Homo sapiens: one gene and its partners. The protein of the gene in region 4 purifies or fractionates together with the protein of the main gene of each other region. This does not show direct contact. Each region holds a gene or a part of one and is shown on either strand. Other genes may lie near its edges. The genes, in order: VAPB, KBTBD6, WRAP73 and OSBPL9.

Region 1 (3,408 bases), on a different chromosome or scaffold from region 4:
GAGGAAACCTGATTTTGTATACTGTGTACCCCTTGGTCTTGTGTGAAGTCTTACCATTTGCCCACCTTACTTTTCCAAAAGAAGTTAAAATTGTTTTCATTAACGTTTTAACAAGGTAACACTGTAAGATGGAGAACTGTCAACCACTACTTAAAAGACAGAATCCACCCACCTTTCAAAGCTGGAAGCAATTTACACAGGTGGGTACCTTTGTAAATCACTGATGACACACACTTCCCCCAATAGGAAAACACTGACATGCAAGCTGGTCCCTGTGCTTAAGCTCTCTGGGCAAAAGTTTCCTCATCAGTAAAATGAAGACGTTGACCTAAGTGATCTCTTAGATCTGTTTTCTGGTGCAAAAGGTCTCTGATTTTAATTTAAACCAATTTCATGTTCCTACAAAGCAGTGAGAGTCGAGCAACGGGCTCTAGTCCACACTCCAAAGCCTATCTCAATGGAATTAAGCCATCCATTCAAAATAATTTTACACTGAAGCATCCTTTAAATATATTCAGAGCACAGAATTTATTGAACATAATATGGAGACAGCTAGTACAAAAGTTTATGCCTTGGCAGGGCAGGTTTCATCAGGCTGATAATGGAACATGGGAGAACATGCTGTAAATGGCTCTTTTGGTCTGGACCCTGCAGAAATACATCTCCTTCTCTCTGGGAAACATCATGTCAGCTGCCAAGCCATGAATTTATTACATATCAGAAAACCAAAATGTGCAACAGTAAAGAGTCCTTTCCTGCACCAACTTTTTAAATTACTTCCATGTCAAAACAGCAAATACAATGAAAAATACATAAAGGACAAATTATGAAAACTAAAGCATTCTAAGACATCTCTTAAGATACTCAGTTCCTAACATGTTAACATACATTGAAGACTATAAACACACACATCAGAAACTGTGGGAATCTTTTTTCAACATAGGGAGAAAGACGTAGAATAGGGAGAGAACAGCATGGGTTACTGAAACCATTTATTCAGAAAGCAGAGGAAAGGCGAAAGGAACACTGAAATAGATCATTTTTAGTTTCTTATAGGAAGTTCCAAATGGCAGCAGTTGATAAATCGTCTTTAAAAAGGAAACGACAGCAACAGAAATGAGAACCAAATATATTTTGCATTTTTCTCTCGGTGTATCATCTTGAGTCACCTTACTTAGGCTACACACGAATGAAAAATATAAAAAGCCACGCCCACTAATTTCGCAGCACCTCATATAGTAGCAAACAGACAGAGGGTACTTACGAAACGTTTGCTAAGGAGTGAATGATGAAAAGCAAAAAGTAGTTCTTGTACACATGGTCTCAATATCACAGACAATAAATTCTGACCTTTGAATTCACATAAAAGATGCAATGGAAAAACATTTTAACATGGATACTGTACTAGAGGATTAACAGCTGAATTCAGTCTATTTCTTAAAAACAAAAGAAAGACGGGAATGCAGGCAGCCAGTTCGGAGAAACAGCCAGGACTTTTTTGTATGACATGGAAAAACCGGCAAGTCAACGTGTGAAACGTGCACACTCATTTCTCATCTTCTTAAACCCTAAAAAGCCCCGCAATCTTGTTAGCACTAAGCCTGGATGAAATTGTGTTAAGATATCTGATTAGTCTCCCTTAGTTGGCATTTTCCAAAGGGAAAAAAAAAGGGAACCTGTTTTATTTCAGTCAGACATGGCTTTGGGTATCAGTGAAACGAAGCTCTGACAGCAGCTCCACCTGCAGAAGGCCAGGCGCACTCCTGCAGCTCATCAGAATGCAAGCAGGAAAGCAGGCCAGCAAGCGAGCATCTGTCCTGCACCCACATCCATTAGCCAAGTGATTACATCTCCATCAGCCCTGGGGTGTAATAAAGCAATTGTAATCGGGCATTGTTACAGGATCAATGTTTCCTGGTTTAAAAATAAACATCAGCATTTATCTAGCAGCAGAAAGCGATTCTCCCACAGTACTGTTTTATTCAACTGACATCTTTTAATCAAAGCAATCCATATCGTGGCAACATTCCAAGGTATCATAACTGCAAATATTTATGGCAAGTTAGATAATGGCTACATTTTTGTTGCTACACTTTTCTTCCTTTTCTACGGATTTAACACAGACATTTTCTAATAAACTAATTCCATTAAGAAAAAAAAATCTCAAGTAATTATATTCATGAAGACAACCTCTCATCCACCTCCACCCGTTTCTCTTTTAACTATCATCCATAACTGTTTATGTGAGTTCATGTCTTTTAAATTTTTCAAAATATCTCTGTAATGAAAATAAAAAGCCCCTATTGTTAAGTGCCGTAGATACAGCCAAAAACATGGCATGGAGGGAGGTCAGGGCCCCCTGGCACAGGGGTGGGTGAGCTTGTGCAGCTCAGCTAATGTTCTAGGCTGTGGCTAATGGGATTCAGAGGCTGGAGGAAGAGGTCTGTGAAGCTGGGGGCAGACCCATTCCCACAGCCTCCCAAGCTTGCCTGTCGGCTGACGCTCCTTATCAGGGGCTTCTATTACTTGCCCTCTTTGCTGATATCCTGGAGAACCGCAGTGCTAATTCAGGGAAAGGCCTGAGACATCAGCAGCTCAGCTGTTTTCAAACCTCAGCAGGGCCCTTCTGTAATACCAATTTTAATCAACTGCCCTCATTCACATTTAATTTACAAGTCATGTAAAGCCTCCATATAAAGCGCTCCCATCATCTCCTTGCCGAGACGGACTGGCAATATTCTTTCTAAAGCCCCCAAAGTCATTCTCCAGGAGCATCAGCAGAGATCTTCAGGCAATGAGAAAATGGAATATGTACCTTTTTTCACTGTCTGTAGTGTGTTCAGTTTCCAACAGAAAAAGAAAAAGCATCTGAACTACAGTCTTAATTCTACTTACTTTAGTGTGAAAATAACTGAATAAGGTACGGAGGCAGACACAAAAGATGTACAGACGGGCAGAGTAGCTGAGGCAGGAAGGCCTCATCCACTCACTTCCCTGAAGCAGATTTTCAGAGCTGAAATGGTATCTTAGCAATGTAGGCCTTACAGAGACTGATTTAGTTCTAAAAAGTTGCCCGATTTAACCTCCTGGAGCCTTTATTTCTTCGTATGCAAACAGAGCCATCTACCCCCCAGTCACAGTTGCAAGGATTAAGTTCAATGAGCGAATGTATTGGAAATGTTCTATACAGGTAAGGAGTGGCATTGAAACAACAGTAACTTTCTTGAAAAGGTTCCTATCAGAGCAGATCTGTCTGAGGAAAAGGGGCCAGGGAAGGCGTTCTCCAAATCCAATTAGGCCACAGAAACTCAATTCGCGTAGGGCCAGCATGATCTCAGAGCTGCTCTTGGTGTTCCAGAAGAGTGGTCGTTGGCCTTATGGGATTTGTATGTCATGAACTAGAGTCAT
Region 2 (7,679 bases), on a different chromosome or scaffold from region 4:
CTTTTCACAGGTAAACAAGGTAGGGAGGTCATCAGTGAGTCTTATGGTAGGCATGAGAAAAAGTAGACAGAAAGTCATCTACGTCATACAGGAAGGATGGTTCACTGTGTAAGCCATTTCCCAGAGCACAAAAGAGTTGGGAGATTTAGGAAAACAAAACTTTGTGGAATTTCTTAATTCCATGATCTTGATCTCCACGGGTAAAATTGTCAGTTCAGATTGAAATTCTGTCTGGGAAGTCAGTTGGAAGCAGAGTCACCCTTTGGTCTACCAGATCATGATACATTGTTGAATAATAATTTGTGAAGACAAATAGCTGTGTAGTAGTATTTAAGACTAGGCATGATGTACTGCCCAACTGCAAGGTATAAGACTACAAACAGGAAAATAATTAGTGTATTAGGCCATTCTTTCATTGCTATAAAGAAATACCCGAGACTGGGTAATTTATAAAGAAAAGAGGTTTAATTGGCTCACGGTTCTGCAGGCTTTACAGGAAGCATGGTACTGGTACCTGCTCAGTTTCTAGGGAAGCCTCAGGAAGCTTACAATCATGGTGGAAGGTGAAGAGGAAGCAGGCATGTCACATGGTGAAAGCGGAAGCAAGAGAGGGAAGAAGAGAGAGAGAGAGAGAGAGAGAGAATGGGTGGAGGAGGTACCACATATTTTTAAACGATCAGATCTTGCGGGAACTCAAAGCGGGAGCTCACTTATCACCAAGTGGACAGACAGCACAAGTCATTCATGAGGGATCCGCCCCCGTGATCCAAACACCTCCCACCAGGCCCCACCTCCAACACTGGGGATCACACTTCAACATGAGATTTGAGCGAGGACAAATATCCAAACTATGTCAATTAGTAATGTTTGTAATACAGCTCAAAACCGGGTCTTCTATTTCTAAATCTTGCCCAGGGGAACATGCCTCAGGCTATTTGAATTTACCTTAGAAAGCCAACTAGCCTTTTCCTTGAGTTTAGTAACTAAGCATTCACTTGTCCTGTTGTGTTTATTCAAGTGCAAAAAGAGATTTTGGCTATGGCACAGATATCTCCTTGTCTAGCTAGAAGGAAGTTGAAAGTTGTAGGATTGGCCATAACAATTTGGACCTGTGCGTTTAAACTTATTTTCTGTACTTCTAGGGCCAAAGTGGTATAATTTTCTTCTACAAAGGTTAAGGAGAGGCTTGAACTACCTTTTCTTTTTTTTTTGAACTATCCTTTTTAACTGTATTAATGCCATAGTGGGTGTCAAGGGCCCTCATGGTGCATATGAAAAGAGAATCATTGATATCCCTGGGAGGTTTTCCCCAATTCCCTGTAGTTGCCTCAATTTGGAGGTAATTCCAGAAGGACACACCATTGACAGGTGGGATAGCAGCTTTAAATATTTTGAAGTCCCAGACAATCAGTCCAAATGCCCTTGGGGAAGGCATGAAAAGTGGTATCCTATGGGGAAACAGGTGGGGTCTGAGGTATAGTAATTATTAACAATTACTGGGATTAACAACTGGGTAGATCCCTCAGAAGAGCAGAGTCTTTGTGTGGAACTGAACGCAGTTTGTAAGGCTGGTTGGGAAGTGGTGGAAGAGAAAATGGTTATTATTAGGGATAAAAGTGCTCCTACATTTTTTCCTACACTTGATCCTGAAAAAGTGGAGTCATTGAGTTTGGAGATTTCAAGAGACTCATTAATCATGTTAAGAATTAAGTTTCATTTAGTACATGCTGAGAAATTGGGGATAATAGAAGAGTCAAGGGCCATTAGGCATGAGACTCTGGGCAGGTTGAGTTCCTTAAAGAGTTTGGCTAGTTTGAATATAACGGTACCACTGGCCTGCTTGTTTCATTTTCCAGAGGACTGGTAAGGAGACTGCAGTTTTTGTAACATTGGAAGTACTTGTTGAAGATCCTGAATAACCTTACTACTGAAGTGAGTTCCTCCACTGTTATTAAAAAAAACAGAGATCCCTAGGAGGGGAAAATTCTTTCTGGTATCAGGTTAACTTCAGTGGTGATAGTAGCTTGTTTACAGAGAAAAGCTTTTAACCATGCTGAAAACATGCCAACTATGGTTAAAACATATTTGTACCCATAAGACTTTGAGAGTTGATATATTTTCCAATGAAAACAAGGACTAGAGAGAGTTGACTCTCATGCTTGTCCCACTTTACATGTTGACTAGGATTGTGTTTCTGGCAGATGGGGCAAGTTGAAGTTAACTGCTCAGTATTAGGGCATCCCCAACAATATTTGCGGAGAAAGATTTTCTTTGCCATAATGTGTAATCTCATGGAGGCTGCAGAATAAATTTTGGGTGAGGGACCAAGAGAAATCAATGATGTCTAGGTGTCTCCAAAGCCCATCTGAGTAGAAAAAACATCCAGCTTGTTGCTTTTTTGCTTTTTCAGCCTCAGGTGCTAGCAGCTGTTATATCTTAAGTTTCTTAAGAGTTTCTGTCTTTAGAGTAGGTTGAGCAAGGAGAAGTATACACGTGATTCAGGAGGTGTTTTCTTGGGAAGCAGCAACCTTAGCATATTTTCAGCCAGTTAAGTTTCCTTTAGCTTTGTTAGTCCAGCCACTAGTGTGAGCTTTGATTTTTGAGAATGGCTAATTTCTGGATAGCTGTAAGGACTTAAACAGGGGGGCTGGGCGCGGTGGCTCACGCTTGTAATCCCAGCACTTTGGGAGGCCGAGGCGGGTGGATTACCTGAGGTCAGGATTTTGAGACCAGCCTGGCCAACGTGGCGAAACCCCATCTCAACTAAAAGTAAAAAAAAAAAAAAAAAAATTAGCCGGTCATGGTGGTGGGTGTCTGTAATCCTAGCTACTCAGGAGGCTGAGGCAGGAGAATCGCTTGAACCCGGGAGGCGGAGGTTGCAGTGAGCCAAGACCGCGCCACTGCAACTCCAGCCTGGGTGACAAGAGCGAGACTCCATCTCAAAAAAAAAAAAAAAAGACTTAAATAAGTTAGTGAGTTGGGTTCTGAGTGGTACTCCTCAGTTGTCATAAACCTCTTTCTTTCCATAGCATACCAAAATAACGTGCAATTCCAAAAGTAAACTGGCTGTCTCTATAAATGTTAGTTCCCTTATCTTGTGCTAACATGCAAGTTTGGGTGAGTGCTTAAGAATTCAATGATTTGGGCCATGTTAACTTAAGTGGAGATTTCAACTTAATAGGCTGTTGAAAATCTGCAATAGTGTATCCTGCTTAAAATTCCCCATTTGTACTCCTGAGGTAAGAACCATCTACAAAGGTGATATCAAGGTCTCTGAGAGGAGTTCTGGTGATGTCAGAGTGAGGAAATGTGAATGACTGTGTGACGGTGATTCAGTCACAAGGTTGTCCTTCAGAGGGAATGGGAAGAAGAGTGGCTTGATTGTTTTGACTACGGTGGACAGTGATGAGAGAGGAAGACAGTGGCAGGGTTTCACAGGAGGTGAGTCCGAAGCGGAAACGTGTTAGGTGTTCTCAGTGACTTCTAATGTCTGAACTGCACGGGGTAAGTAAAGGTTGAGTGAATGACTAGAAATAAAGTCAGCTCTGATGGAGAGGCAACTTCATACAAGCAAGGGGAGAAATGCTTGAGCCACTGGGTCTAAAAGGATGCTAAATTACCAACCAGGCCTCTGGCTTCCATTGTGTTTTGGGGTGAGGACCCCCTAAAGCATGTCTCTTCTTTTGTGTAAAAAAGGGAAAGGGGTACTGAATATTGGAGAGACCAAGTGGGAGAAGTGGCTACAGAGGACTTCAGGTTTTGAAATGCAGATATGGAAGGAAAGTCTCAAAGTCAGGTGACTGGAGGTGGTCTCCTTTTAGTCATGGCAAATAAGGACAGGCAATTGTGAAAAAGCCAGGGATCTAATTCCAGCGATAGCCAACCAATCCTACAAACCCTGAGTTATCTTTTGGTACCAGGGAGAGGCATAGTGAGTAAAAAAAAAAAAAAAAAAAAAATCACTTCTAATGGATACATACACTAATACAAGATGTTAATAATAAGGGAACTGTGAAGTGGGGAGAGATATATGGAAGTTCCCTGTCCCTGCTGCTCAATTTTTCCGTAAACCTAAAAATAAAATCTAATTTACACACACACACACACACGCCCCTAAAAAGGGATCTCTGCTGGAACTTGCAAGGTTTTCTGTTTTGGGGGGTTTTTTGTTTTCCTACAGGCTCATAATTTCAAATTAGTGGTGCTTCCTTTTTTTTTTTTTAATAAAGGCTGGAAGAAAACTTATCGAACCTTTATAATTCTAAGAACTGAGTAATTATTCTACAAACCAACAAATATTTATTAACAGCGTCCTATAACCAACTCATGTAATCTTCACACAATCCTATGAAATACTACTGTTCACGTCTTACAAAAGAAGAAACAGTTCAAAGAGACAAGTCAAACAATACATACTAGAACGAGGCGACTACTCTGGATTCCAAAACCACAGTTCCAAACCACAAAATCGAATCTAGGAAAATTGGCGCTCTCGAGTGTCGTCAGCTAAAACAAGGAACACCAGAGAAGGATCGCGATATTACACAAACTACTACTCCCGACATGCAAAGCGGATTCTTTCCCTCGGTCTCGGCCCGGGAGTCCGAGAGTCCCAGCAGCCCTCGGGGCGCGAAAGGCAACCTGGGAGCGGTAGTTCTCCTGGGCGCCTAGCATTGTCGCCCACGCTGCAGTAGCGGCTTCTGCGGCTCCAAGCCAGCGGGTCCTGTGAAGGCGAGCAGACGCGGAGAAAGGACGCGGGAGTGAGAGAGGGTGAGTCAGCCACTGTCTAAACGATAACGGGAGGCGGTTCTGCGGGGTAGGGTTGAATTCAGTAAATGGGCTCGTGCTGCTGTCTCTTCGGAGACGCTGCTATCTTAGCGTCAGCGAGGGAAGGTTGAGGAGGAGCCAGAGCCGGGTCCTGCAGCGTTTCTCGCCATCAGCGCCCGTCGCCATCTCCACCATGCAGTCCCGGGAAGACGCCCCGCGCTCTCGCCGCCTAGCCAGTCCCCGTGGTGGGAAGCGGCCCAAGAAGATTCACAAACCCACAGTTTCGGCCTTTTTCACGGGTCCAGAGGAATTAAAGGACACGGCCCATTCTGCAGCCCTGCTGGCACAGCTCAAGTCCTTCTACGATGCGCGGCTGCTGTGTGATGTGACCATCGAGGTGGTGACGCCTGGCAGCGGGCCTGGCACGGGTCGCCTGTTCCCCTGCAACCGCAATGTGCTGGCCGCGGCATGTCCCTACTTCAAGAGCATGTTCACAGGTGGCATGTACGAGAGCCAGCAGGCCAGCGTGACCATGCACGATGTGGACGCCGAGTCCTTCGAGGTGTTGGTCGACTACTGCTACACGGGTCGTGTGTCTCTCAGTGAGGCCAACGTGGAGCGCCTGTACGCGGCCTCCGACATGCTACAGCTGGAATATGTGCGGGAAGCCTGTGCCTCCTTCTTAGCCCGACGTCTTGACCTGACCAACTGCACCGCCATCCTCAAGTTTGCAGATGCCTTTGGCCATCGCAAGCTGCGATCCCAGGCCCAGTCCTATATAGCTCAGAACTTCAAGCAACTCAGCCACATGGGTTCAATTCGGGAGGAGACTCTAGCAGATCTGACCCTGGCCCAGCTGCTGGCTGTCCTGCGCTTGGATAGTCTGGACGTGGAGAGTGAGCAGACAGTGTGCCATGTGGCAGTGCAGTGGCTGGAGGCTGCTCCCAAAGAGCGGGGTCCCAGTGCTGCAGAAGTCTTCAAGTGCGTGCGCTGGATGCACTTCACTGAAGAAGATCAGGACTACTTAGAAGGGCTGCTGACCAAGCCCATCGTGAAGAAGTACTGCCTGGACGTTATTGAAGGGGCCCTGCAGATGCGCTATGGTGACCTGTTGTACAAGTCTCTGGTGCCAGTGCCAAACAGCAGCAGCAGCAGTAGCAGCAGCAACTCTCTTGTATCTGCAGCAGAAAATCCACCCCAGAGACTGGGTATGTGTGCCAAGGAGATGGTGATCTTCTTTGGACACCCCAGAGATCCCTTTCTCTGCTGTGATCCATACTCGGGGGACCTTTACAAAGTGCCGTCACCTTTGACCTGTCTGGCTCACACTAGGACTGTCACCACTTTAGCTGTCTGTATCTCTCCTGACCATGACATCTATCTAGCTGCTCAGCCCAGGACAGACCTCTGGGTGTATAAACCAGCTCAGAATAGTTGGCAGCAACTTGCAGATCGCTTGCTGTGTCGTGAGGGCATGGATGTGGCATATCTCAATGGCTATATCTACATTTTGGGGGGGCGAGACCCTATTACTGGAGTTAAGTTGAAGGAAGTGGAATGCTACAATGTTAAGAGAAACCAGTGGGCATTGGTGGCTCCACTGCCCCATTCTTTTTTATCCTTTGACCTAATGGTAATTCGAGACTATCTCTATGCTCTCAACAGTAAGCGCATGTTCTGTTATGATCCTAGCCACAATATGTGGCTGAAGTGCGTTTCTCTGAAGCGCAATGACTTTCAGGAAGCCTGCGTCTTCAATGAGGAGATCTATTGTATCTGTGATATCCCAGTCATGAAGGTCTACAACCCAGTTAGGGCAGAATGGAGGCAAATGAATAATATTCCCTTGGTCTCAGAGACCAACAACTACAGAATTATCAAGCATGGCCAAAAATTGTTGCTCATCACCTCTCGCACCCCACAGTGGAAAAAGAACCGGGTGACTGTGTATGAATATGATATTAGGGGAGACCAATGGATTAATATAGGTACCACATTAGGCCTCTTGCAGTTTGATTCTAACTTTTTTTGCCTCTCTGCTCGTGTTTATCCTTCCTGCCTTGAACCTGGTCAGAGTTTCCTCACTGAAGAAGAAGAAATACCAAGTGAGTCTAGCACTGAATGGGACTTAGGTGGATTCAGTGAGCCAGACTCTGAGTCAGGAAGTTCAAGTTCTCTTTCTGATGATGATTTTTGGGTGCGTGTAGCGCCTCAGTGAAATGCACAGGATCAACAGGGTTTGTTGTAACTAGATTGAAACACTAAGTTGTTTTTACTGTTTTGGAAAATATCTTAAATATCCTTTTTGTTCCTAAAGGAGAGGAAAAGTTGATTAACTTCTGGTTTGGTTTAGAAAAAGTAATGTTTGAAATACGAAGGTAATTTAATGTTACAAATTTTAACACTCAAATCAACCTTTTAATAATTTTCTGTGCTAAGGGTCCAGTATTTATTTGATTATTTAGTATGTTTATGTTTCATGACACTAATTTAGTCTTTTGATACATTTTACATTCTGTTTACTGCCACAAGCACTGTGGCAATAACTTTTGAATTTTAATTTTTATAATAGAAAAATGATTAGGAATTGCTAGATAGTGTTTTGAAAGCATATCTTTTTCTTCAGAACAATGTAGACTTCCAAAATGGTTAACCTAAGGGGTCTTTACAAAATGTGTTATAAGTTAAACATAATTTGGGAAGTTTTACTTTTGTTTTCTTCTATGAAGAAAAAAATGCAGGCTGGGCGCGGTGGCTCACGCCTGTAATCCTAGCACTTTGGGAGGCCGAGGCAGGTGGATCACCTGAGGTCAGTTCAAGACCAGCCTGGCCAACATGGTGAAACCCCGTCTCTACTAAAAATACAAAAATTAGCTGGGCGTGGTGGCATGCGCCTGTAATCCCAGCTACCC
Region 3 (7,035 bases), about 48 Mb from region 4:
GAAGTCCTGAACACACAGGTAGTGGATCAACGAGCTCCAGGGGTCACGTGGCAGCACGGAAGGGCTCCTGTGCTGATGCTGAACCCGAAACACACTGGCCGTTCTGGGGACCATGCCTCGGAACTCCAGCTGCACAGAGCACTTGCTCCTCTAACAGCTCCACAAGCTGAGGCCAAGGAGGGCGCTGGGGCCTGAGCGAGGAAGCGTGCTACTTCCCACCAGCGTGTCTGAGGCTGAAACCTTGCCCAAGCCTCTCAGACTCAGCAGGGTGGGTGCAGCGCCTGAGGCTCTGAGCATCAGCAGGGCGGGGTGGAGCGCCCGAGCATCTCAGCATCAGCAGGGCGGGGTGGAGCGCCCGAGGCTCTGAGCATCAGCAGGGCAGGGTGGAACACCCGAGGCTCTGAGCATCAGCAGGGCGGGGTGCAGCGCCCGAGGCTCTGAGCATCAGCAGGGCGGGGTGCAGCGCCCGAGGCTCTGAGCATCAGCAGGGCAGGGTGGAACGCCCCAGGCTCTGAGCGTCAGCAGGGCGGGGTGGAGCGCCCGAGGCTCTGAGCATCAGCAGGGCAGGGTGGAGCGCCCGAGCATCTCAGCATCAGCAGGGCAGGGTGCAGCAACGGAGCATCTCAGCATCAGCAGGGCGGGGTGGAGCACCCAAGCATCTCAGCATCAGCAGGGCGGGGTGCAGCGCCCGAGCCTCTCAGCATCAGGAGAGTCCATGTGCCACCCAGGGCAGAGACCTGCCCTCCAGAGCCTACTGCAGAGTCACAGGAGAAAAGCACATCTCCCACCTGTGGCCCTGCATCCCTGTGGGGTGCGCCTGGCCGAGGCTCCCCACTCAGGCACATCTTAGGAAACACAGGGAGCACTTTAAGCCTGATTTTTACCTTCATCTCACAAAAACAAAGAAACAAAAACCTTTAAAAGATAACTTTGCAACTTTTAAAAACCCAATAAGAAAAAAAGGTAGTTAAATATACACCTTCATCAGCGCTGTTACCTTCCACTGACCACTGGAGAAGCCAGCGGAGGAGACCCGTGGGATGGGCTCCACAGCACTCAGCAGCAGGAAGAAAGGACCAGAGGGATCCACATGACCCAGAGCACTCAGGAGGGAAGGAAGGGGCCGCTGATCCACGCTACGACCCAGTGTGCTGAAGACGGAAGGAACGGGCCACCGATCCACACCACAACTCAGCATGCTCAGGGTGAGAGGAATGGGCCACGGATCCAAGCCATGACCCAGTACACTCAAGACGGGAGGAACAGGCCACTGATCCATGCCACGACCCAGCACTCTCTCCACACCATGACCCAGCACTCTCAAGATGGAGGAACGGGCCACTGATCCACCCCACAACCCAGCACACTCAAAACCAGCAAGATGCCAGGGAAAAGGAAGCAGACGCACAGCTCCACGCACCATGGCTCTGTGCAGATGGGATTCCGAGTAGGCAGTGCTGCTCGCCCCGCAGCAGGCACCGGCTGCCGGACACAGGTGGGAGACGGACTGAGCACAAGGGGCACGAGGAGCCCCATGCCACGGGCGAACAGTCTTGGTCCTGATTGTGGCGGCAATGACGTGCAAAGTGACTCACTCAACTGTGCTCTTAAAGTGGGTGAATTCTCTTGCTTATAAATTGTTTTAATTGCCTTTATTCAGATATAAGAAAAAGTCTGCAGTCTGGATATATTTTTAAAGCTAACTATAGACTATTTACAACATACACACTCAAGTTTAAGGATGCAGAAATGTAGAAGGTAAAAGGATAGAAAAAGACATATCAAGAAAATCCTAACCAAGAGAAAGGTGGCACTGCCGCATTCGTACGGGATAAATCAGACTCTGAAACAAAAAGAACCGTGAGACATAAAGAGGAATACTTTACAACAAAAGGCCTGTGCCACCGCGGAATCATGGGAACCGCTTCACTAGGAAATCTGTTTACAAACAGTTAAAAGTTTGTATGCAGCTAACAACAAAGTCTCAAAAATACATTTAAAAATCTGGCAGAGCCGGGCGCACTGTTGTGCACCTGTAATGCCAGCTATACAGGAGGCTGGGAAGGAAGGATTGCGTGAGTTTAGGAGCTCGAGACCAGCCTGGGAAACAAAGGGAGACCCCAACTCTACAAAAAAATTGTTTTTAAAAAATCTGACAGACTACAAGAGCAATGAAGAGGAATCAGTCCCATCAGATATTCAAACACACCATAGAACCTCAATAATGTAGACAGTGTGGTGCTGGCACATAGGTGGACCAACAGTGGACTGGAATGGAAACCAGAAGTGATCCTGCAGGTATAATGGAACTGAGCTCCTGCTATAGCTGGTGAAGATAGCCTTCTAAATAAATGCTGCTGGGAGCTGGGCACGGTGGCTCACACCTGTAATCCCAGCACTTTGGGAGGCCGAGGCAGGCAGATCAACTGAGGTCGAGAGTTTGAGACCAGCCTGACCAACATGAGAAACCCCATCTCTACTAAAAATACAAAATTAGCCAGGCGTGGTGGCGCATGCCTGTAATCCCAGCTACTCGGGAGGCTGAGGCAGGAAAATCGCTTGAACCTGGGAGGCGTAGGTTGCGGTGAGCTTGGATCACACCATTGCACTACAGCCTGGGGGACAAGAGCGAAACTCCATCTCAAAAAAAAAAAAAAAAAAATGCTGCTGGGAAAAGGTAGAAATGGATTCAGACCCCACAGTGTGCCCCACTACGTGAACCTGCTTCATTTAAATGGAGCATGTGTGAGCGTCTGTGTGTAATGAAACAAGATAGGAAAGCACTCAACCTCACCGAGAATTAGGGAAACGCAAACTAAATCCAAACTGCAGTATCATTTAGTCGCCTGGATGGAATCATTGTAATCCTGCCACAAAAGCCTTGGCAAATGAAACCCCTCCGTCTGCTACGGCCAAGCAAGGCTCTCCTAGAGAGGCTCTCCGGGTATGTGCCCAGGAGACGGGGACAACACGTTCACAGCCACACCGTCCGTGGTGACGCACACGTCCAGCAGGCGAGGACTGAATGGCGTTCCTCACGAGGAAGGGAAGGCCCAGCGATGCCTGTCAACACGGAGGAGTCTAAAAGCAGTGACGGGGAACAGCAACAGCAGAGACTGCAAAGTACAAGCCCCTATAAATCAACTTTACACTGCACAGCAAGCAATGTGGTGTTTAGACACATCTGTACAGTGAGACTCAAGAACAGTGAGGATGTGATTCACGCAAGACGTGGGGCAAAGGTGCCCTCAGGTGGGGAGGGCATTGCTACGAGGAAGAGAAGGGCTCTGAAAGCGCGGCAGTGTTCCGCTGCAGGCCTAGGGGTGAGCCGCTTTTGATGACTCACTGAACCTCGTCTAATGGGCGCAAGCTTGCCTTTTCACGTTAAAATGCAAGAGGCAGGGACGTCTCCCATGCTCCACAGCACCCTCACGTGGGGTGGCGCCTTCGCAAGTGGACTCAGCGGCCCCACTAACCCCCGAAATGGGGTCGCGCCTTCGGAAGGGGACCCAGCGGCCCCGCTGAGCCCCGGACATGGGGTCGCGCCTTCGGAAGGGGACCCAGCGGCCCCGCTGAGCCCCGGACATGGGGTCGCGCCTTCGGAAGGGGACCCAGCGGCCCCGCTGAGCCCCGGACATGGGGTCGCGCCTTCGGAAGGGGACCCAGCGGCCCCGCTGAGCCCCGGACATGGGGTCGCGCCTTCGGAAGGGGACCCAGCGGCCCCGCTGAGCCCCGGACATGGGGTCGCGCCTTCGGAAGGGGACCCAGCGGCCCCGCTGAGCCCCGGACATGGGGTCGCGCCTTCGGAAGGGGACCCAGCGGCCCCGCTGAGCCCCGGACATGGGGTCGCGCCTTCGGAAGGGGACCCAGCGGCCCCGCTGAGCCCCGGACATGGGGTCGCGCCTTCGGAAGGGGACCCAGCGGCCCCGCTGAGCCCCGGACATGGGGTCGCGCCTTCGGAAGGGGACCCAGCGGCCCCGCTGAGCCCCGGACATGGGGTCGCGCCTTCGGAAGGGGACCCAGCGGCCCCGCTGAGCCCCGGACATGGGGTCGCGCCTTCGGAAGGGGACCCAGCGGCCCCGCTGAGCCCCGGACATGGGGTCGCGCCTTCGGAAGGGGACCCAGCGGCCCCGCTGAGCCCCGGACATGGGGTCGCGCCTTCGGAAGGGGACCCAGCGGCCCCGCTGAGCCCCGGACATGGGGTCGCGCCTTCGGAAGGGGACCCAGCGGCCCCGCTGAGCCCCGGACATGGGGTCGCGCCTTCGGAAGGGGATCCAGTGGCCCCGCTGAGCCCCGGACATGGGGTCGCGCCTTCAGAAGGGGACCTAGTGGCCCCGCTAATCCTCGAACGGGTCTGGTCCTTGCTCTTGTGAATGAGACTGATGGACGGTGCCCGCAGCTCACTTCCTGGCCAGCACGTCTGGAATTCCGGTTTTGTTTCCTCACTTGCAACCATTAAAGTTCGCATGCAAAGCTGGAGACACATTTTGACATCTTGGTCAAGATGCCCCATGCCTTGAGGTTACCGGTCCTCATCCACCACCTGGTCTTAACGTTTCCTCTAAGGCCACCAGCAAAGTGGTCATGACCTTAGTCTTAGGTTGAACAATGTCATCTAAATGTACTCTATGAAAAATCAGTTTGTTCTGTAGCAAAGGTGTTTTCAATATTGGTGTGTGTGACATGGGATGCTCAACAAAACCAGGCTTTTATCCATCTTTTAAGGTTTCTAAACTCTATAGATGGTAGTTTTCCTTCTGGGCCATTTAATAAGATAATACAACAAGGCTGACCCCATGACATGAGCCCTTCTCAAGGGCAGATTTGGGCCCAAAGCATTACAGGCCTGAAGACTGTTAGACACGGCTGCGTGAAAAGCTCAAATTATCCTCTCTGAAACACTCAGGCCGAAAGTGCCTTCCAATGTCAATACATAGTGCGGAGACATTGGTGGGCCTTTGTTTCCTGTCTTATTCTCTGACAGCCCATAATAGCAGACATTAGATTTGGAGTATTTTTTAAAATCGAAACTGAAAAATATGTAAAGCCATCCAGCCATCTGAAGCAGTTGATTCAGCAACCCTCATGGCTGGATAAAACTTTATCCCAGCCGATGCCAGCTTGAAAAAAGCCGAATGAAACCCTACAGAGCATCTGCAGCCACACGCTGGGAGAAATCCTCCCAGGTGCCATCATCTACGTGGTGTGCGCGGCGCAGCGGGACGGGAGGGCTGCAGTGTGGTGTGAGCGGCGCAGCGGGATGGGCGGGTTGCCCCGTGGTGTGCGTGGCGCAGCGGGACGGGCGGGTTGCCCCGTGGTGTGCGCGGCGCAGCGGGACGGGCGGGTTGCCCCGTGGTGTGCGCCGTGCAGCGGGACGGGCGGGTTGCCCCGTGGTGTGCGCGGCGCAGCGGGATGGGCGGGTTGCCCCGTGGTGTGCGCGGCGCAGCGGGATGGGCGGGTTACCGAGGTGCAGCCAGCAGCCCAGACAGCTATGAGCACTCAGTGGACTTGGGCCCAAACACTGGGATCCAACTCCATCAGAAAAGCACATTATTAAAGGAATTCGTCCATTTTTCTGTATCTTAAAAAGACACTGCGGACACCAAAGACCTGGTATCTAAACACTTGACATATGCCTAATTTTAACTTAAAATGCAGTCTCCTATCCCAGATCCCTCTGATTTATTCTCGGATGTCAACATTCCCCTCCGCGCTGAGCTCAGCACGGAGGCTGTTGTGCGGTACCTACAGCAGGTGAATGGGCGGCTGCCGACCGCCCCGAGCCACGCCCCCAGGCCAGGCTCCTGAAGGAAAGGTGCGAGCCGGCTCATATCACAGCGCATTTTCTATCGTTGAATTAAAGGGAGTGCCGAAATCCTAAAAAATCTAAATTAAGATTTTTAAAATGTTTTTTCTTCAAAACTGGACAAAAGATCAGACAATAATACTTAGTGGCTTATAATGCTCTGACCTAAAATATACACACCACTATATACGCTCCCCGGCTCCCTCCAACCCCGCCAATCTACCAGCCACTCGGGAGCCACCTCAGTCATCAGACCCAGGGCAGCAGACAGTGCCTGTGTTCACGACACCCTTATCTGACTCAGTAGCAGCCCAAAGCACGGGCGGTGGGGCTCGCAATCTGGATACGCCAAAGAGAAGCCACAAAGTGCTTCCTTTAAATGACGAGCTGAAAGTTCTTGACGCAACAAGGAAAGAAAAAATCCTATGCTGAGGTTGTTGCTCAGATCTTCAGTAAGACCAAATCTTCTATCCATGCAATTATAAACAGTATATTGTTATCCTTGTTCTATACTATGATTGTTGCTAATCTCTTACTGTATCTAATTTATAAATTAAATGTATCACAGGTATGCTGTATAGGAAAAAACACAGGAAATACAGGGTTTGGTACAATCTGAATCCCCTGGTGGTCTTAGAATGCATCCCCTGAGGATAAGGGGAGACTAGCATACTCCAAACACACCCCCTCTCGCACTCCCCAGCTGTTTCGAGAGCAGAGGACAGGATCACATGGCCAGTAAGGTGTCTTGGGGCTGACACTTACATGGAATTCCGTGGTGTTGAGAATGTGGCGCCCGTCCGGGCTCCAGCACGAGGCCACCAGCCCGGCTGAGCCCTCGTCTATTTTGCAGTGCCATTCGGGCTGCTCTAAAGACCAGACCTGGATTGAGAGAAGAAAGAAACACACAAGTGCAAACTCATCAGCACCGAGAGACAGCGAGGACAGCTCGCTTAAACGCAGCGGAGACCCGACCGCACAGGGTGTCTTCAAACTCATCAGCAGTCTATAGCGAGGCCTCGCCGAGAGACAACTCCCTTAAAACCAGCAGAGACCCGATCACACAGGGTGTCTTTTAGAACCTTTCATGATGAAGGGCTGGTGCTGGATTCCAGTGTAAAAGTAAGCCACGCTTCTTGGTGATTTCATTTCGTTGTTGTTTTAAAACTGTTTATTCACATTGTCATTCCTAAGACCTCATTTAGTTAAGCTTTGGACACAGAAGAAAA
Region 4 (7,035 bases):
GATTGGGTTAGGATCATTGCGATAGTTGTGAACTGAATAGATTTACACAAGCCTCACCTTAGTTGAATTTTTATTAGATGAAATGGCCAGGGAGAACTAAGGATATAAATTTAGGAACACTATGTGAGCAACCAATTGTTTATGTGGCTTATGATCACAAAAGAAGATATGGAAGGAAGGAAATTGGGGGAGTTATAGATCTATGAGGAATTGGAAGTTTAGAAAGAGGAGTTTGTGCCTTTTGTTAATTTATGAAAGGTTACTGAGTACCTATTGTGTGCCTGGCACTTTGTTAGGAAGTGGGGTTAAAGTGGCAAATAAGATGGAAATTGTTCATCCTCTCATGGTACCTATAATATGTTGGGGGACATACCAGATAAGAGCTGTGATAGAGGAAGCACAGGGGGATACATAGGTGGGCTACTTGACTCAGTCTTGAAGGGTTAGGAAAGGTTTCCTTGGAGAAGCAGGTTTGTTTTGACTTGAATGATGAGGAGAGATTAGCCGTATGAGCAGAGAGGGAAAAGTGCTTGAGACAAAGGGAATAAAAGTTTTTTGGAGGAGAGAAGAGTAAGCAGCTTGTCAGTTCTGGAGGTTGGGCTGTGAGGTAGGTAGTAGTGAGAGATGAACTGGGGAGCTAAGCAGGAGGACAGATAATGAAAGGCTTTCTTGGCAAACCATGTTAAGGAATTTGAACTTTATCCCCAGGGCAGTGGAGAGCTATTTCAGTGTTGTAAGCACTTTTTATTATTATTGAAAAATCTTTTATTATAGAAATTTAAAAAAATAAATCTATTTTATTTATTCATTTATTTTGATAAGACTGGTTAATTTTGTATTTTTGGTAGAGACGGGGTTTCACCATGTTGCTGAGGCTGGCCTCGAACTTCAGGGCTCAAGCATTCACTTGCCTCGGCCTCCCAGAATGTTAGGATTACAGGCGTGAGCCCCTGTGCCCAGCCTATTATAGAAAATTTTTAACATTCATAAAACTAAAGAGGACGGTAAAATGAATTCATTTCATCCAGCTTATACAAGTATCAACATATGGCCAGTCTTGTTTTATTAGTACTCCCATTAACTCCTTCCTCCTCTATTGAATTATTTTTAGAGCAGATCCCAGATTATTATTTCTTGTGAATATTTCAGTATGTGGCCAGGCATGGTGGCTCACGCCTGTAATCCCAGCACCTTGGGAGGCCGAGGCGGGGAGATCACCTGAGGTCAGGAATTCAAGACTAGCCTGGCCAACACTATCTCTGCTAAAAATACAAAAATTTGCCCTGCTGTGGCCAGCGCCAGTAATCCCAGCTACTTGGGAGGCCAAGAATTCAGCCTCTCCCTTCAAGGAGAATCACTTGAACCAGGAAGTGGAGTTTGCAGTGAGCCGAGATGGTCCCACTGCACTCCAGCCTGGGCGACAAAGCAAGACTCCGTCTCAAAAAAAAAAAAAAAAGAAAGTTAAGGTCCCTCTATTTTCAAAAGAATGTTATCAAAACACTTTTATTACAGCTAAATAGTAGTATTTATTAATATCAAATATCCAGTCTGTTCAATTTCCTAGAATGTCGCAAACATTTCTTCCTTACCAGTTGGTTTGAGTCAGAATTCCAAACAAGATCTGCATATAAAATTATAGAGTCTCTTTTAATCTCTAGTTCTCCCTCTCTTTTTCTTGGCCATTTATTTGTCTAAGACACCAGGTCATTTACTCTGTAGAATTTTCTGCATTTTGGATTTTGTTGGAAGCATCATTTTGGTATGTTTAAACAGGTTCCTTTGTCCTCTGTATTTCCTATATAAATTGATAATTTGAGCTGAAAGCTTAATCAAATTTATTTTTTTTCTTTTGGGCAAGAATATAGGTGGAACCTATCAAATCAAGAGGCATATGATGTTAGCTTGTCTCTCTATGATGTTAAAATTGATCAGTAGGTTCAGGTGAAATGTGTGTTTTTTTTTTTATTTTAAAGAATATGGTTGCGGAGAAGTAATCAGGAGGTTGCTTTTGATGGGATTTAGTGATTGGATGTGAGTGAAAGGGGAAGAGTCTGAAGACATCCAGGTTTTCAGCTTGAGCTGGTTGAATGATAAAAAGGAAGATAGGAAGAACAGGTTGGGGGAGAGAAGTGGTTGCTTTGGGGCATGTTGAAATTGACATAAAGATGTGTTACAGTCTGGAGCTTGGGACAAAAATCTGGGCTGCATATCCTCTTATCAGTCAGTAAAACATAAAATAAATCTGGGCTGCAGATAAATATTAGTTTTTCATATATGGAGAGTTGAGAGAGTGAGTAGAATAGAGATCTTTGGATAGGACTCTGGAAAATACCACTGGATTTAGTTATCTATTGCGTTATGACAGATTACTCCAAAATGTAGCAATTTAAAACAACAGTTTGTTACCTCATAGTTTTCGTGGGTCAGAACTTTGAGTTCTGGCTCAGGGTCTCTTATGAAGTTGTAGTCAATATATTAGCCAGTGCTGCAGTCATCTGAAAGGCTTGACTGGAGCAGGAAGATCAGCTTCCACGATGACTCACATGGCTGTTGTCAGAAAGTGGCAGTTCCTTGCTGGCTGTTGGAAGGTGGCCTCATTCCTCACCAGGTAGCCTCTCCATTGAGCTGCTTAAGTGTCATCATGACAGAGCAGCTGGCTGTGATCCAAGTGAGAGCAAAGAGGAAGCCTCAATCCCTTTTATGACCTAGTCAGAGACCACCACTTCTGCCTTATTCTGTTCATTAGAGACAAGCCATTAAATTCCACTCATGCTCCTGGGGATGGGAATTTCAGACATGAGGAGGGAAATTAGGCTTTATCTTTTGAAAAGAATTTGTGGACAAATTTTAAACCACCACAATCACAATTTAAGGGATTGGCAGAGGAAAAAAGCTTGCACAGGAGAGTGAAAAGGGATGCCAGAGATGTAAGAGAAAAACTAGAAGAATGTGGCAGTCATGGATGGCAAGGTGGAAGTAGTAAATTGGCTTGAATACTGCTGAAAGGATTAAATAGATGAGATCTAAAGCATATCCATTGGATTGATGAACATCATTGATGTTCTTAGGCAGAGCAGTTTCCATGGAGTGGTAGGTATGGAATGCAGGTTGGAGTGGCTTGAAGAGTAAAGAGGAGGCAGGAAATATATGAAGCGAATGGAGGTTATTCAAGATGTTTCATTGTAGAAAGGGCAAAGAGGACATGGAATGTGGAATGGAGGGGAACAGTTTCTAAAATAGGAATATGCTTAAATGGTGTAGGGATGGGAAGCAAGGTCAATGTTAAAAATGAGGATACAGTCAGGACGCAAGGAGTATAGTAAAGATTTAGGACAATGACAGTGGGAACTGGAAAAAGGAATAGCTAAGGAATAGCTAAATATGATTTGTTTAGTCATTACCCACAAATGTTTAACCCTCTTTCTTGATTTGTATTGCTTTTGGAGAGAGGGTTAGAAACTGAATTAGTAAGTTACCTGGGCTACTCAAGATATTCCTTGTAAAAGGAGTCGTTAGAGAAATCATATGTTCTTTGCTGTTACACACTGTCTGGAAGAGACTTGTAATGACTTTGCATTTTAAAACCACTGCTAGTCAAAACACATTTAAGTGTTATTTGGCAGTCTTTAGCAATGTTTAGTAGATGATAAAAAAATCTACCATCTAATTATTAGATTTTAGATTTTTGAATAGCTTAAATGTATATATTTCTCTTGCAAACATGTAAAAGTAGTCTCAGATTCTCCTGGAAAGGTATCAGCACCACTCCCATCAAACATTTAAAAGCAAATTTATTCTTTTCTAAGTAAACCATTCTTGAATATATCAAATATGATTTTTATTGAGCTTATATATGGTACTTTTTTTTTTTTGTCGGAGTCTCGCTCTGTCACCCAGGTTGGAGTGCAGTGGCACGATCTCCACTCACTACCACCTCCACCTCCTGGGTAGAAGCAATTCTCCTGTCTCAGCCACCCGAGTAGCTGGGATTAAGGCACCCACCACCAGGCCTGGCTAATTTTTGTATTTTTAGTAGAGACGAGGTTTCACCATGTTGACCAGGCTGATCTTGAACTCCTGACCTCAGATCATCCACCTGCCTCAGCCTCCCAAAGTGCTGAGATTACAGGTGTGAGCCACCTTGCCTGGCTATATGGTACATTTTAGTAGTCCAAATCTAATAGAGTAGCTTTAGAATTATAAAAGGAACAAAAGAAAAATTGTATCTAAATCTAAATGGGCTGGGTGCAGTGGCTCATGCCTGTAATCCCCCAGCACTTTGGGAGTCGAGGCAGGTGGGTCACTTGAGGTCAGGAGTTCAAGACAAGCCTGACCAACATGGTAAAACCCCGTCTGTACTAAAAATACAAAAATTAGCCGGGCATGGTGGTACACCTCTGTAATCCCAGCTACTTGGGAGGCTGAGGCAGGAGAATCGCTTGAACCCGGAAGGCAAAACCCGTGAGCTGAGATCACGCCACTGCACTCTAGCCTGGGTGACAGAGTGAGACTCTGTCTCAAAAAATAAATAAATAAATAAATAAAAATAAAAATAAATCCAAACACCCTGAAAAGACATAAAGAAACTCTCTAAGATAGTGAGTAGTATCAGTGGGAAGAATTATTTGGAAATTTTTTATCTTTTACTTTCCTTGAATACTTTAGACAGTCTTGATTTTTCCCTTTTCTAAAACTCCTGAGCCTAGCTCATATACTTCTTTTGGGCATTAATCATCTTACATCTGCTACAATTAACTAAATGTATCTCTAGTACATTCTTTATCTGTACAGCAAGCTTGTAAACTCCATGATGGCAGTACTGAACATCATAATAATCTTCAAGCCTGACAATGAGGCATATTATTCTCCTTGTGAATAGAATATGAATGGCCCTTCTAATTCGAATTATAGGTGAGTGAGGCAGAAGGCTGTTTGGAATTCTTGTTTACACAGCCTTGTAAGTTTTACAGAATATACTAATAGCAAATATGTATGTTTCCACAGTTTATGTAAAACCTGATTGGGTTTATATTAACAACAGAGGTTTTTTGTTTAGTCATCCAGAGCCTGTGGAACTGTGTGCCATCTTTGCTTCCTGTGTTGTAGCAGACAAGCAGTCAATTCTTGCTTCTGTTGCAAGCAGTTTTCTTGATGGTGATAATTTGTAGAAAGATGTAGAGTTGTTCTTAAATATGCCACTCCAAAAGTGGCAATTGTATGATTAGATTTTCTTTTTTTAAAATGTAATTTAATTTATTTTAAACTAATCTAGACCATGCCAGTTGGAAGGATTAGATTTTCAAATAGGTAATCCCGATCAAAACTAGAACAGTGTACAAGTGATTTAGATTAAGGATTGAATTTCTTTTACTGTTTATAGAGAAATACAGACAAAGAAATGGCCACCCCAATCAATTGTTTCCTTCTCATTTATTTAATTGTAAAGGATTATCTTCTTCTTCTTTTTTTTTTTTTAATGGGGTACTGCTCTGTCATCCAGGCTGGAGTGCAGTGGCATGATTTTGGCTCACCGCAACGTCCAGCACCAAGACTCAAAATCCTCCCACCTCACCTCAGCCTCCTGAGTAGCTGGGACCATAGGCATGCGCCACCACACTGGCTAACTTTTTGTATTTTTGGTAGAGATGGGGTTTCACCATGTTGGCCAGGCTGGTCTCAAACTCCTGAGCTTAAGCAATCCACCCTCCTCGGCCTCCCAAAGTGCTGTGATTATAATTGTGAGCCACTGCATTCAGCCCAGGATTATTTTAAAAATGGAATTTACTTGCAGAAGTTAAGTTTACATGTTACATGGGATGATATAAATGGAATTATATTCAAGGAAAGTATTTCCAGGTATTCATAATTAATTTTTTTCTATTCACATGACAATGTTAAAATTATTGTAAAAGTTGATTGTCTATTTCTTGGAGTTTTGTTCCATTGAGGCCCCATGATAAGATTGTCTACTTATTTCTTGTATTTTATCTTAGTATTGTTATGGCACAGCTGGGTGAAAATACACTGGATAAAAATGTGATCTGTCGTTCTGGCAGCTATCTTTTGTCTCTCAATCCTCTTCTTTCCTCCATCACTCATAGGAGATGCCATGCTTACCAGAGACAATAGTCCATTTGGTGGGAACACTCTCAACTCCTTGTTCTCCCACCTATTTTGATATATCTATTTTCCTCTTTATACTTGCTTTTACCTTTCCCTATCATAGAAGAGGTAATCCTGTGTTCTGGATTCCATTTGCTCACAAACTTTTCGGGGATCTCAGTCTATAGATTTTCTCCTCTATCTGCTTTCTCTCCTCTCTCTATTTAACTTCTTCCTCACTACAGATTTTTCTTATTTAAGAATATTATTATTATTATTATGCAGTATAACAAACAGTTGTAATCATTTTATACAGACATTTTTAGATAGCCTGTTGCTTTTTATTCTTTTTTTTCCCCCTTACAACCAGATCTCACTCTGTCACCCAGGCTGGAGTACAGTGTGCTATCACAGCTCACTGCAGCCTCGACCTCCCAGGCTTAAGCAATCCTCCTGCCTCAGTCTTCTGAGTAGTTGGGATTGCAGGCATGTGCCACCACACGAGCTAATTTTTGTTTTGCTTTTTTTTTTTGGTAGAGTTAGGGTCCCACTGTGTTGCCCAGGCTAGTCTTGAACTCCTGGACTCAAGTGATACTCCCGCTTTGGCCTTCCAAAGTGCTGGGATTACAAGTGTGAGCCATGACACCTGGCCATCTTTAATTTTGATGATGTCCAGTTTATTTGTTCTTCTGCTGCTGCTTATGCTTTTGGTGTCGTATCTGAGAAATCATTGCTTAATCTAAAGTCACAAAGTTTCATATCTATGTTTACTTCTAAGAGTTGTTTATTTTAGCTATAATGGGTAGGTCTGATCCATTTTTGTTGTTGGTCATGGTTTTTTTGTTTGTTTATTTTGAGACAAGGTCTTTCTCTGTTGTCCATCCTGGAGTGCAGTGGCACAATCATAGCTTATAGCAGCCTCAAACTCCCAGG

What was found.
Region 1: the proteins of OSBPL9 (region 4) and VAPB purify together in Homo sapiens (affinity purification with mass spectrometry; 9 studies listed by BioGRID and IntAct, with this or other methods). This does not show direct contact.
Region 2: the proteins of OSBPL9 (region 4) and KBTBD6 purify together in Homo sapiens (co-immunoprecipitation; 2 studies listed by BioGRID and IntAct, with this or other methods). This does not show direct contact.
Region 3: the proteins of OSBPL9 (region 4) and WRAP73 purify together in Homo sapiens (affinity purification with mass spectrometry; 4 studies listed by BioGRID and IntAct, with this or other methods). This does not show direct contact.

The regions. Positions count from the first base shown.
Region 1 is NC_000020.11:58,448,197-58,451,604, reverse strand, and holds the end of VAPB (vesicle-associated membrane protein-associated protein B/C), read right to left. Parts: 3' UTR 504-3,408; downstream 1-503. UniProt on the Homo sapiens protein: Endoplasmic reticulum (ER)-anchored protein that mediates the formation of contact sites between the ER and endosomes via interaction with FFAT motif-containing proteins such as STARD3 or WDR44.
Region 2 is NC_000013.11:41,129,793-41,137,471, reverse strand, and holds the start of KBTBD6 (kelch repeat and BTB domain-containing protein 6), read left to right. Parts: upstream 1-4,669; 5' UTR 4,670-4,960; coding exon 4,961-6,985; 3' UTR 6,986-7,679. UniProt on the Homo sapiens protein: As part of the CUL3(KBTBD6/7) E3 ubiquitin ligase complex functions as a substrate adapter for the RAC1 guanine exchange factor (GEF) TIAM1, mediating its 'Lys-48' ubiquitination and proteasomal degradation.
Region 3 is NC_000001.11:3,640,095-3,647,129, forward strand, and holds part of WRAP73 (WD repeat-containing protein WRAP73), read right to left. Parts: intron 6,689-7,035; coding exon 6,572-6,688; intron 1-6,571.
Region 4 is NC_000001.11:51,620,066-51,627,100, forward strand, and holds part of OSBPL9 (oxysterol-binding protein-related protein 9), read left to right. Parts: intron 1-2,406; exon of another isoform or gene 2,407-2,479; intron 2,480-7,035. UniProt on the Homo sapiens protein: Interacts with OSBPL11 to function as lipid transfer proteins.